2 separate regions of the Homo sapiens genome follow, and region 2 is linked to region 1. Evidence: fine-mapped expression QTL. A gene starts in region 1. The other region holds a variant in brackets. All regions are shown on one strand. Distances are between the middles of the regions.

Region 1 (5,363 bases):
AGGGTTGGCCTCCTGGAGGTCACTCTCTTTTGTTGCCCCTTCCCATGGCCACCCCTGTGTACACACGCCTCGGGGGTCTGTGTGTGTTCACGTTTCCTCTTCTTTTTTTTTTGAGATGGAGTTTCGCTCTCGTCACCCAGGCTGGAGTGCAATGGCGCAATCTCAGCTCACCTGGGTTCAAGCAATTCTCCTGCCTCAGCTTCCGGAGTAGCTGGGATTCAGGAGCGCACCACTGCACCCAGCTAATTTTTGTATTTTTAGTAGAGACAGGGTTTCACCATGTTGACCAGGATGGTCTCCAATGCCTGACTTCAGGTGATCCACCCGCTTCAGCCTCCCAAAGTGCTGGGATTACAGGTGTGAGCCACAGAGCCCGGTCAACATTTCCTCTTCTTGTAAGGACGCGCTGGATGAGGGCCCACCCTAACAGCCTCATTGAATCTCCTGTGTGTTTTGTAACTGATGTTGCTGTCTCCCCCAACGGAGCTCCTTCGGGGCCTAAGCACTTCTGAGTCGTCTCTGGGCCCCCACCTCTGGCTGCAGGATTTTAAGCCAAGGCGTGCAGCCGGGGGACAGCAACGTGAATACGCCGGGAGGGGCACGGGGAGCCTAAGCACAGGGAGGCCCAGGGAAGGGGTCCCCAGTAGGGACGCTGGTGCTCTCGGGCCCCTGCCCATGCCACCCTTGCCTGCCAACCCTCTTCGCATGCAGCGGCACCCTCCTGCCACTGGCATGAGCTTTTCTTTCCAAGTAAGTTTCAGATCCACATTTCCCAGGCCTCAGAGCGGCAGCTGAGGGAGGGAGGAGGCTGGGCAGGCCTCGCTGCTGCACACCCCACTGTGTGCCACGATCAGGTACTGCCTGCTAGGACTCTGACTGGGCCCACGGTGGCTGCAGGACTGTCCTGGGGCCTTCACTGCATGGCCTGAACAGGGGCTGGGCTCCCAGGGAGGAATGATTCATGGCTGGTTCCCGCCCTATAGACAAGACAGTCACAAGGAGCTGGCAGGGTAAGACCTGTATATGCTGCCACCTGGTGCCAGGCACAGCAGCAAGGCCACGTGGACCTAGCCCACCTCACCTCTGCCTGCAGCAGCAGGGCTGGGTAGGGGAGCCGAGGGGAGGGGCAGGCCTCAGACCTCAGTGTCACATCCAGGCAGTGTCAGTGTGAGCCTAGGCTCTGCCACACTGGAGCCCTGTGCTCTTGGGCAAGTGACTTAACCTCTGTGAGCACAGTCTTCACTGATAAATCAGGGAGGGATGTGCCCTCCGAACCAGGTTGTGGCTGCTTCCTATGGGGCTGTGTTAAGCACTGCGGACGCAGAGACTGGAGCTTGCATGAAGGCGCACGGCGTGCTCTGAAGGCAGGGCTGGAGTCCCTGCAGGCTGGTGATTCCTTCAGCTGTGGGGTCAAGGAGGCCTTCCTGGGGAGGCGGTGAATTGGGGCCACAGGGGCCGTGTCTCTCCAAGTCTGGGGCCCAGGCTCCGGTTCCTAGGGCCAGCTCGGGGGCGGCTGCTCAGCTGTCTGCTCTGTGGCTTCAGGCCCCAGAGCAGTTCAAAGGGCCAGCGCCCCCGCCCCCTAAAAAGACCTCCGCCTCCTGAAAGCCTTACCTGCCTGTCGGGGCCCAGCTGCAGGCCCCCTCCCAGGCCGACAGGACGCCAGGATCGTAGAGGGCACCCGCCGCCCAAGGTCACGTCGCCCGTGGCGCCCCCATCCAGGCCCGCCCCCCGCCGCGCCCGATCGCCAGGACTGCGTTTCCACGCCGCCCGGACCCCGCCTGAACCGAGGCCCGCGCGGAAGGCGCCACTGAGTCCCGGCCGGCCGCGGGAGCGCCAGATTCAGCACCCGGCACCCGCCGGAGAAGAGAGGAGAGAAAGGCAGCCGCCTCCCGGCCCCAGCGCCCTGGCCTCGGCCAGCCCCATCCCGGCCCCTTCCTCCTCCCTCTTCTCCCCTTCTCGGGTCCCCCCGTCTCTCCCTGGCTCCCGGCCCCTCCTCTACCCACGCCTCCTCCTCGCCCCCGCCCCGCCCGTCCCCTCCGCGGTCCCCGCCGCCCGCGTACGGGGTGACGCAGCGCCGCCTCCCGCCGCCCGCCGCCCGCCGCCCGGGCCACTGCAGGGGCCGCTAACGGTCCGGCGCCCCTCGGCGTCCGCGCGCCCCCAGCCTGGCGGACGAGCCCGGCGGCGGAGATGGGGGCGACGGGGGCGGCGGAGCCGCTGCAATCCGTGCTGTGGGTGAAGCAGCAGCGCTGCGCCGTGAGCCTGGAGCCCGCGCGGGCTCTGCTGCGCTGGTGGCGGAGCCCGGGGCCCGGAGCCGGCGCCCCCGGCGCGGGTGAGTGTCGCCGCCGCCCGGGTTCGGCCGGACCTGGCCAGGGAGCGGGGGCGGCTTGGGGGACCCGGCTGGGGGGACCGGGTGCAGGGAGCGAGCGGCTGTGGTAAGGCCGGGGGCCCTGGGAGCGCAGGCGCCAGGGAGGGGTCGGGGCAGGCGGGAGGGAGGCCGGGGCCAGGGGCCGGGCTGTGCGCCGCCGTCTGCTCCGGGAACCCGAGGACAAAGCGCCGCGCAGTGGAGGGGAGGCCGGCGCCCCATCCCCGCGGGGAGGTGGGACCCGGGGCGCGGGGTCGTGGCCCCCGGTGCGGTCTGTCCGCAGGGCACCTCTGGACAAGACGGACTGTGGATGGATCCCGAGGGGGGGTGCCAGGCGCTCCCCACCGCGCGCATTGCAGTTTACTCCAAGAACAGATGCTTTTCTTTAGCAGGGATCCGAAACCTGAGAGGCGCCCTTGCAGGGTGAGGACTTCCTGTTAAGAAGTTAAAGAAGGGGCCCCTGACTTTCTGTGGGGTGTGCTCCCTGCTCGGGATGGGGGAATTGGTTTCCGTGCCACGGGTTGGCTACTTGCCCCGCAGAGGCCCTCCGGATGAGGAGAAGAGTGACTTTGGTAAACATGGAGGACGCATAGCCCACCCTGGAGAGAGCCCTGCAGGAGGACAGAGGGTTTGTTTTTGTTTTTTGTTGTTTTTTGTTTGTTTTTTGTTTTTTTTTTTTTTTGAGTCGGAGTGTTGCTCTGTTGCCCAGGCTGGAGTTCAATGCCACGATCTTGGCTCACTGCACCTCCGCCTCCTGGGTTCAAGCAATTCTCCCTGCCTCAGCCTCGGAGTAGCTGGGATTACAGGAGCCCGCTACTACGCCCGGCTAATTTTTGTATTTTAGTAGAGACAGGGTTTCACCATGTTGGCCAGGCTGGTCTTGAATTCCTGACCTCAGGTGATCTGCCCACCTCAGCCTCTCAAAGTGCTGGGATTACAGGTGTGAGCAACCGCACCCAGCCTTTTTTCTTTTTAATTATTGGGGTGGGTGTGGCAGAGGCCAGGATTCATGCTGGATGTGCGGAGCTGGAATGGGGTGGGTGTGGCGGAGGCCAAGATTCTCTGGTGGATATTCGGAGCCTGGGATGACACCTTTAGACCCTGTGGGCAGTCGAGGTCAGGAGTTCTTCTGGGCGCTTTCTGGTGCTGAGTGGTGAGGATCTGTGGGTTGGGTTCTGGTGGGGACAGAGTTGAACGTTAGGTGGGGCCAAGGTCGAGGGGTGGTCTCAGACCCATGACCAACACTTGGTTTCCAGCCCTGGGGTCACCTATCTGTGGCTGGGCATCTGAGACTTGACTTTCCTAAGGTATTTCTCATGTCCCCTTTGGTAGAAATGTCACACCCCAAATATCACCCACCAGGGCCCACACACAAGGAGAACAGGTGCCTGACCTGGGCCCGAAGGGTTTGTACTTTGTTGTAAATCCCTAGGCTTCAGGAAGATGACTGCCTCCCCCAAGCACTTCCTAAGTGCGGGCCACTGGGCTTCAAACCGGATGGGTTCCTGAGAGGCAGCTGCTCCCGTCCTAGGGATGCAGGGGCCGATCTGCAGGGGCTGGAAGTGACTGGCCCAATTAGCTGCTGTGCTTGTAGCCACTGGGCTGTAAGGCTTCCCTCAGGCTCCAGCCGCCGCAGAGACGCCAGACCCTTACAGGGCATCTGTGTGGGAGGTCAGTCATCACTGCTTTCTGCCTTGGCGTCCCCAGCCAGCTCCCATTATGGTTTCTGGTCCCCCAGGTCAGGGCTTGGTGTGGTGTGGCGTCTGCTTTTGTCCAGCCTGCTGGGGTTTGCCTCTTGGCATGCTAATTGCTTCACTCTTGCTAAGCCAAGGTGCTTTTGTGCGGGTTCATCCTGAGCTGCCTGACTGGCCTGCCAGGAGCTTGGTCCCTCTTGGAGAGGGAGGGCCCTGGTTTGTGGGGCCATGGATGGTGGGGCCCTGGCTGGTGGCCCTGGCTGGTGGGCTTCCTCCAGGAAGCAGCCTGCCCTCTCCACCCAGGAGTGCTCTCCCATGCAATGGGAAAACATCAACAAGTTGGGAAACGCTAAGTTGTGAATGAGTTCAGGAATACAGCCACACTGTCTCTAGTTTTTTTCTCATAGCTTTACAGTCCCCAAAAGGAATCAGGCCCAGGTTCGATTCTTCTATGCTTGAGGTCAGTAGGGCCATAGTAGGGCAGAAGAATGTGAACCAGCTCACAGGACATTTAATTTGGTCAGCAAGGTGGCATTGCCCAGCCCTCCCCATTCCCCCAGGTGTATCTGGGCACACTGGGATTGATTAGGTTGAGGAATGATGAGAGGTGGAGAATTGTGCAAAAACTGGCCCTAGGAGGACCTGTGAGATGAGGCAGGAGCAGCCCTGGAGCTCCAGGTGACCAATGGGCTAAAGACAAAGCCAAGGCCACTGTGTGTGCCCTGCTGGGGTGGCCGCTTAGTTATTCCGACTCCTTTGTTTTCTCCGTAGCATCACCCCTATTTCAGATGTGGACAGTAGGAGTGGGAATTGACTGGGCCCAGAGGCAGTGATGTACAGAGGGAGCTGGCTTTGAACCCAGGCACGTGCACTTTCGTCAGTGGGTCATCATGCTGGGACAGTGACTGACTGTACAAGAGCACAGACAAGGACTAGCAATTTGGATCGCTGCAGCTTCCTGGGCCTGGGTGAGGTCTGCACCTGAGGAAGCCGCGACAGCAAGTGCCCTGGGCCGCCAGCCTGGTGGGAAGTAGGGCAGGACGAAAACAGGAACTTGAAGTGGGTCATGCTCGTTGAACTGGAAACACTGAGTTGATATCTGGGTTATTTCCCCTGACTGTCGCAAAACACACTTAGACAAACCCTGCATTTATTCCTTTAGAGTTGGGAATGGGAAGAGTGTGTGTGTGTGTGTGTGTGTGTTGGGGGGTGAGGGGACTACTGCCCAGGCTCTACCTTTGTGGGAGGATCCTCCCCTTCCTTCCACCAACCCCACTTGGGATGTCCCAGGCTGGTGGTGAACTCGT
Region 2 (5,363 bases), 53 kb after region 1:
TCGCCCCGCACAGACTCCTCGCAGGCCTTGCGCGCTCAGTACTGCTGAGAAAATGGAGGTGGGTGGGTGGGTGGAGTGGGCAGACACTGGAGCGGACGCTCTGCTTTCCATGGGGGTGCTGGAGTTCGAGTCAGGTCTACCGATGCCCAGATTTCCCACCTGGCCATTGGCAACCCCTTTACAAACTCGGCATCCCGGGAGTCTAAGTGAATTATTCCACGCCCAGGGCCCGTCATTGTGGGCTGGACTCCTACAGCCCACGGTGACGTCTGACCGTTCCATGGGGGATGGACCCCCACTTCAGCCCCTGTCCAAGAGCGGTGCTCAGGGCCAGCTTTGAGTGAGGGACACGTGGGGTTTACTGCAGCCCCTGTCCAGGAGTGGGGCTCAGGCCAGCTTTGAGTGAGGGACACGTGGGGTTTACACGTGGCCGCTTGTCTCTGCAGAGTCCACTGCCAGCTGGTTCGACTCTTTGCACGAGGAATTGAAGAGAATCCGAAGCCAGACTCACACAGCTGAGAAGCCGGCGTCCTGCTCACAAACTGGGAAAGTGTGAAAACTATTTAAGATAATTATTACAGACCAATTATGTTGATATATACATTTAAATGTAGAAATTTATTTTTGATAGTTAAATCTTGATTTTAGAAGAAAACCCTTTTGTCAACAATTTTGTGTACATATTTGGCATTTTCAGTTCTGTACGCATCTGCGGGTTGCAGCCCACGCCGCTTACTCTCAGCGGATGCAGCTGCTCACTTGGGGGCACTGGCCTCTTAGGTTTTAACGATGTCAACAGTGTAGTTTAGAAAATGGCCCGTTAGTGGCTCTATTGCAATAATGTTAGGGACATTATATGATTTCCACGCAGGTCACACCATCTGGGCCTGAGGTAGCAGTGGGTCACTTTGATCCACTTTGCAGGACTTATTCTGTAACGGTTTGTGGCCAAGTTTTGGGAAGTGGTTGATTCTCTTTGCCTTCATTTCACCTTCCTCTTCGTTTACGGTTAGGACATCGCTGCTTGATCCTTACAATACTGTGCAACTGCAATGCAACGTGGCCCTGCTTCAGGTGATCCGCGGGAGGGGCCTCCACGCCAGCGCCGGGAAGGCTGCTGGGGCCTCCACACCTGCCTCATCACGGCGGCGAGGCTACGACAATCCGGCTGGGAGCATGACCTTGGCGTCTGTTCTGGGAGCACGGATGATAAGCTCTGGAAGCTGGCAGTGTGTAAAGCACTGGCAAGTTTGTTACTGTTAAAATGTCAAATACCAATGCTTTATATCGACGCGAAGTGCTTAACACAGCCGGGCTTGGGGGCAGTCAGGAGGAAGCTGGCCATCCGTGGAGGAGGGGCCGGTCCTGGACTCCCGCAGGACTCCTCTGAGGCAGGGCCTGAAGTCTGTACACGTGGTCCAGATTTGTCCTTGTCTTTTCTTCACACTGAGTTCTCTATATTTATTGAACATCTTGTCCTTTTAAGCCAGAGTAGTGTAAACTGCGTCTCGGATGTCTGTCTTTTGCCTCGAAGCCACGATGGATCGCTGGTTTCCTCTGCAGCGCGAGGGCTCCGGCGACCAGAGGATTCTTCCCGGAAGGCATTCCTGCCGCGCTCCCCGGGGCACCCCTCAATTGTGTACTACGTCCTTGTTTAGTGTGTATCCGTGCCCACGTAGATGATGTCTGTAACGTAGTTTTGTTTGAAATATGAGAATATGCGGCTTAAACTTTGATCTGTAAGGAGCGGGGCCGTGGCCGTTTGGAGCACGCTGTAGACACCGTTCCTCATGCTGCCGGGTGGGTTTTGCAGAAGCTCCCTTAGTGATTTCATGTTTAACAGGCAGCATCCATTTTCAGAATTTCCTGGCATTGATTTATATTTTGAAGCATACAGGAAACTTCTCGTTTCCTCGTTTAGCCCCACCCAGATCAGGTGAAAGGGCAGCTTTAATGGTGGTTTTTATGGACCACATTATCAGAGAGCACTGTGCAAGCCAAATGGTTCAATAATGAATGAAAATTCTGGGTGTAAAGAGTAAATATGCCCTGGCTCTTTCTACCAATGTTTGCTCCTGGTTGGAAAGAAACCAAAGATTTAAGACGGGCTGCTCTTCCAGACTGGCTGTGCC[TGCCTGTGCCC/C]AGCAACCTGTGCAGCCGGCAGTGTGCCTGGTGTCACGCCAGGAGGCTGTGGCTGCTGTGGGCCCTCTGGAATTGTGCTCCTCACAAAGTTTCCCCAAAAGGTTCTTCTAAGCCTTTATTGTCCCTGGTAAATGTTTCCCGGCTGGGCGCGGTGGCTCACGCCTGTAATCCCAGCACTTTGGGAGGCCGAGGCGGGTGGATCACCTAAGGTCAGGAGTTTGAGATCAGCCTGCCCAACATGGTGAAACCTCGTCTCTACTAAAAATACACAACTTAGCCAGTCTTGTTGGCGCACGCCTGTAATCTCAGCTACTAGGGATGCTGAGGCAGGAGAATCGCTTGAACCCAAGAAAGAGGTGGAGGTTGCGGTGAGCCAAGATTGCGCCACTGCACTCCAGCCTGGGCAAACAGAGGGAGACTCCATCGCCCCCCCCAACAAAAAAAAAAGTTTCCCATACACTGGCCTGCCCCAAAACCCACTAACAATTTTAGCAAAACAGTCCAGGCCAAAGAGGAAGCATTTCATGTTCAATAAGAAACCCAGCCATTCCGCATGGCTGGTTCCTGAGTGGCTCTGGTGATACTCTCCAGCCACCTGCTGACATTCAGAATCTCAGACCTCGGGACTGCTGTTGCGGTACCGTGTGTCTGACACCTGCCAGCAGCCCTTTGCTATCTGCGCGCAGGATGGGGGTGACTGCCCAGACATTCCCGCTAGATAGGCTCTGATTTCCGGGGCAGCCTTTCAGATGCGGCAGACATACAACACCTGTACTTTAGAGTTTTAAGGGAAAAAAAATCAGAAGTGCTGGTTAGATAGTAAAAACTTAGGATAACTTAGAAAGGCTAGTTTTAGCTTCCTTTGTGGCTCCCTGGTGCAAAACAATTAGCAGTTATGCAATGGACCTGATTCTAGTTTATTCTAATTAAGAAGTGAGGCCGAGTTTGACTTCGTTCCTGAATACAATCTTGAGTAACTGGGAAAGTCTGAGTGAAAGGATGGCCTCATTCTCTTTCTAATCTTGCTGGTTTCAAGATTAGAAAATGGCATTATTTGATCTGAAATGTTTGAGAAGACACGAATAAAGTTACTTGGGCAGACTTGGCTTGCTTTCTTTCCTTTACACATACCTGTTATTTTCAAAGCAGAATATTTTTCATGAAAACACACACAATTTAAAGAACAAGAATAAAATGAAGCAAGGTGTCACCACCACCTATGCCAGGCAACTGAACGCCGCCCCGAAGCCTTCTGTGCCCTGCTCTGGAGTCCCCCCGCTCCCCCTGGGAGGGCGCTACGAGGTCACGCCAAGCGCATCCCTTCCTGCCTCTGTCCATGGCTGTATCTGCAACAGCGAGTTTAGTTTTGCAGGTTTTGCTCCTTATCCAAAGGAAACGTGTTGTTTTCTGTAACTTGCTTCTTTCACTCCACATGTCTATTTTTATTTATTTATTTATTTTGAGACGGAGTTTCGCTCTGTCACCCAGGCTGGAGTGCAGTGGCGCAATCTCGGCTCACTACAATCTTGGCTCACTGCAAGCTCGCCTCCTGGGTTCACGCCATTCTCCTGCCTCAGCCTCCGGAGTAGCTGGTACTACAGGTGCCCGCCACCACGCCCAGCTAATTTTTTGTATATTTAGTAGAGACGGGGTTTCACTGTGTTAGCCAGGATGGTCTCGAGCTCCTGGCCTCGTGATCCACCAGCCTCGACCTCCCAAAGTGCTGGGATTACAGGCGTGAGCCACTGCGCCCGGCCCACTCCACATGTTTGAGAGGGCATTTGCATTTGTATTTGAGGAACTTCGAAAGGACATTTGCATTGTGAAACTGACTTTTCTGGTCCATGAAAGATCCTCATTCATGTCTTTTAATTATTTTATAATTTTTTCCATGAAAGTCTTTAAATTTTTAGATTTATTCCTAAAACTTGACTTTTGTTTGTTTTTAACCTTGTTTTAAACAAGGTCTTATTCAGTTGCTCAGGCTGGGGTACAGTGGCGTGATCACGGCTCACTGTAACTTCAATCTCTCAGACTGAAGCAATCCCACCTCAGCCTCCTGAGTAACTGGGACTACAGGCGTGCAACACCATGCCTGGCTATTTTGTTAAAATTTTTTGTAGAGACAGGGGTCTCACTCTGTTACCCAGGCTGGTCTCGAACTCCCGGGCTCAAGCAATCCTCCTGCCTCAGCCTTCCAAACTGCTGGGATTACAGGAGTAAGCTACTGTGCCCAGCCAAAAGTTCTTATTTTGAGGCTTTTTAATGTTTTGTAAAGATAGGGTCTCACCATGTTGCCCAGCCTGGTCTCAAACTCCTGGCCTCAAGTGAACCTCCCATCTTGGCCTCCCAAAGCGCTGGGATTACAGGCGTGAGCCACCACACTTGGCCTTTGAGGCTATCTTAAAATTTGTTTTGTTTTGCATAGAAATGCAATTTTTTGTTTGTTATGAGACGGAGTCTCGCCCTGTTGCCCAGGCTGGAGTACAATGGTGTGATCTCGGCTCACTGCAACCTCTGCCTCCGGGGTTCAAGTGATTCTCCTGCCTCAGCCTCCCAAGTAGCTAGCATTATAGGTGCATGCCACCATGCCCAGCTAGTTTTTTGTATCTTTAGTAGAGATGGGGTTTCCCCATGTTGTCCAGGCTGGTCTCAAACTCCTGGCCTCGTGATCTGCCCGCCACAATTGTTTTTTATGTGTTGGGTTATATCCAGAAACCTTGCCTCCCGTCAACCTAAAGTGACATCAGAGTGTTCTCCTAAGAAAGAGTTTATTCAGGAACAGCAAGGGGATTGCAGTCAGGATATGCGTGCTACACTGGAAGGCATTTTGGGGGGTGTTCGCGATAAAGGCAACACTTTAAAAGGCAAAGAAGTCCATGTAAGCTGCTCTAGAACGAAGTTCACAGGTCACAGCAGCTCCTGGCAGGAGGCAGTACTGTTCACCGCAGGAGTGGCCGTCACTGGGCGGGCGCCCTCGTCGCAGTCCCGAGGGTTCTGGGGTGAGTTCTGCTACAGGCAGGTCTTCGAGAGCTTCTTCACGGCCTCCCCTGACTCATTTTGTACCAGCAGCTTCCACACTCCTATGATGATGATTTACCTGTGAATTTCGGGGTTTTCTGTCATCATATCATTTACAGATAGTAACAGCTGAATGTCTTCTTTACAATCGTGCATGGTCCAGCTATTTCCCCTAGCTTGCGATGCCAGCTGTGACATGT

Evidence for each region. PIP is the estimated chance that this variant, and not a neighbour inherited with it, causes the effect.
Region 2: its variant is fine-mapped to the expression of CERK in whole blood (INTERVAL, PIP above 0.99).

What each region holds. Positions count from the first base shown.
Region 1 is chr22:46,734,973-46,740,335 of GRCh38, reverse strand. CERK (ceramide kinase) reads left to right here and starts at 2,084. Exons shown (of 13, transcript NM_022766.6): 1 at 2,084-2,329. The coding sequence starts at 2,188. LOC105373077 (a long non-coding RNA gene) reads left to right here and starts at 3,944. Exons shown (of 2, transcript XR_001755593.2): 1 at 3,944-4,033; 2 at 4,828-5,363. RefSeq lists enhancers at 1,242-1,571, 945-1,603, 2,842-3,011, 3,699-4,272 and a silencer at 1,732-2,691.
Region 2 is chr22:46,682,290-46,687,652 of GRCh38, reverse strand. It overlaps CERK (ceramide kinase), which reads left to right. Exons shown (of 13, transcript NM_022766.6): 13 at 447-3,243. The coding sequence ends at 519. It also overlaps a transcript of GRAMD4 not described here. Among named protein-coding and RNA genes, the nearest start is that of CERK, 53 kb to the left of the region's middle. RefSeq lists a silencer at 1,047-1,341 and an enhancer at 3,622-4,123. The variant TGCCTGTGCCC/C (reference allele first, on the strand shown) is at 2,133.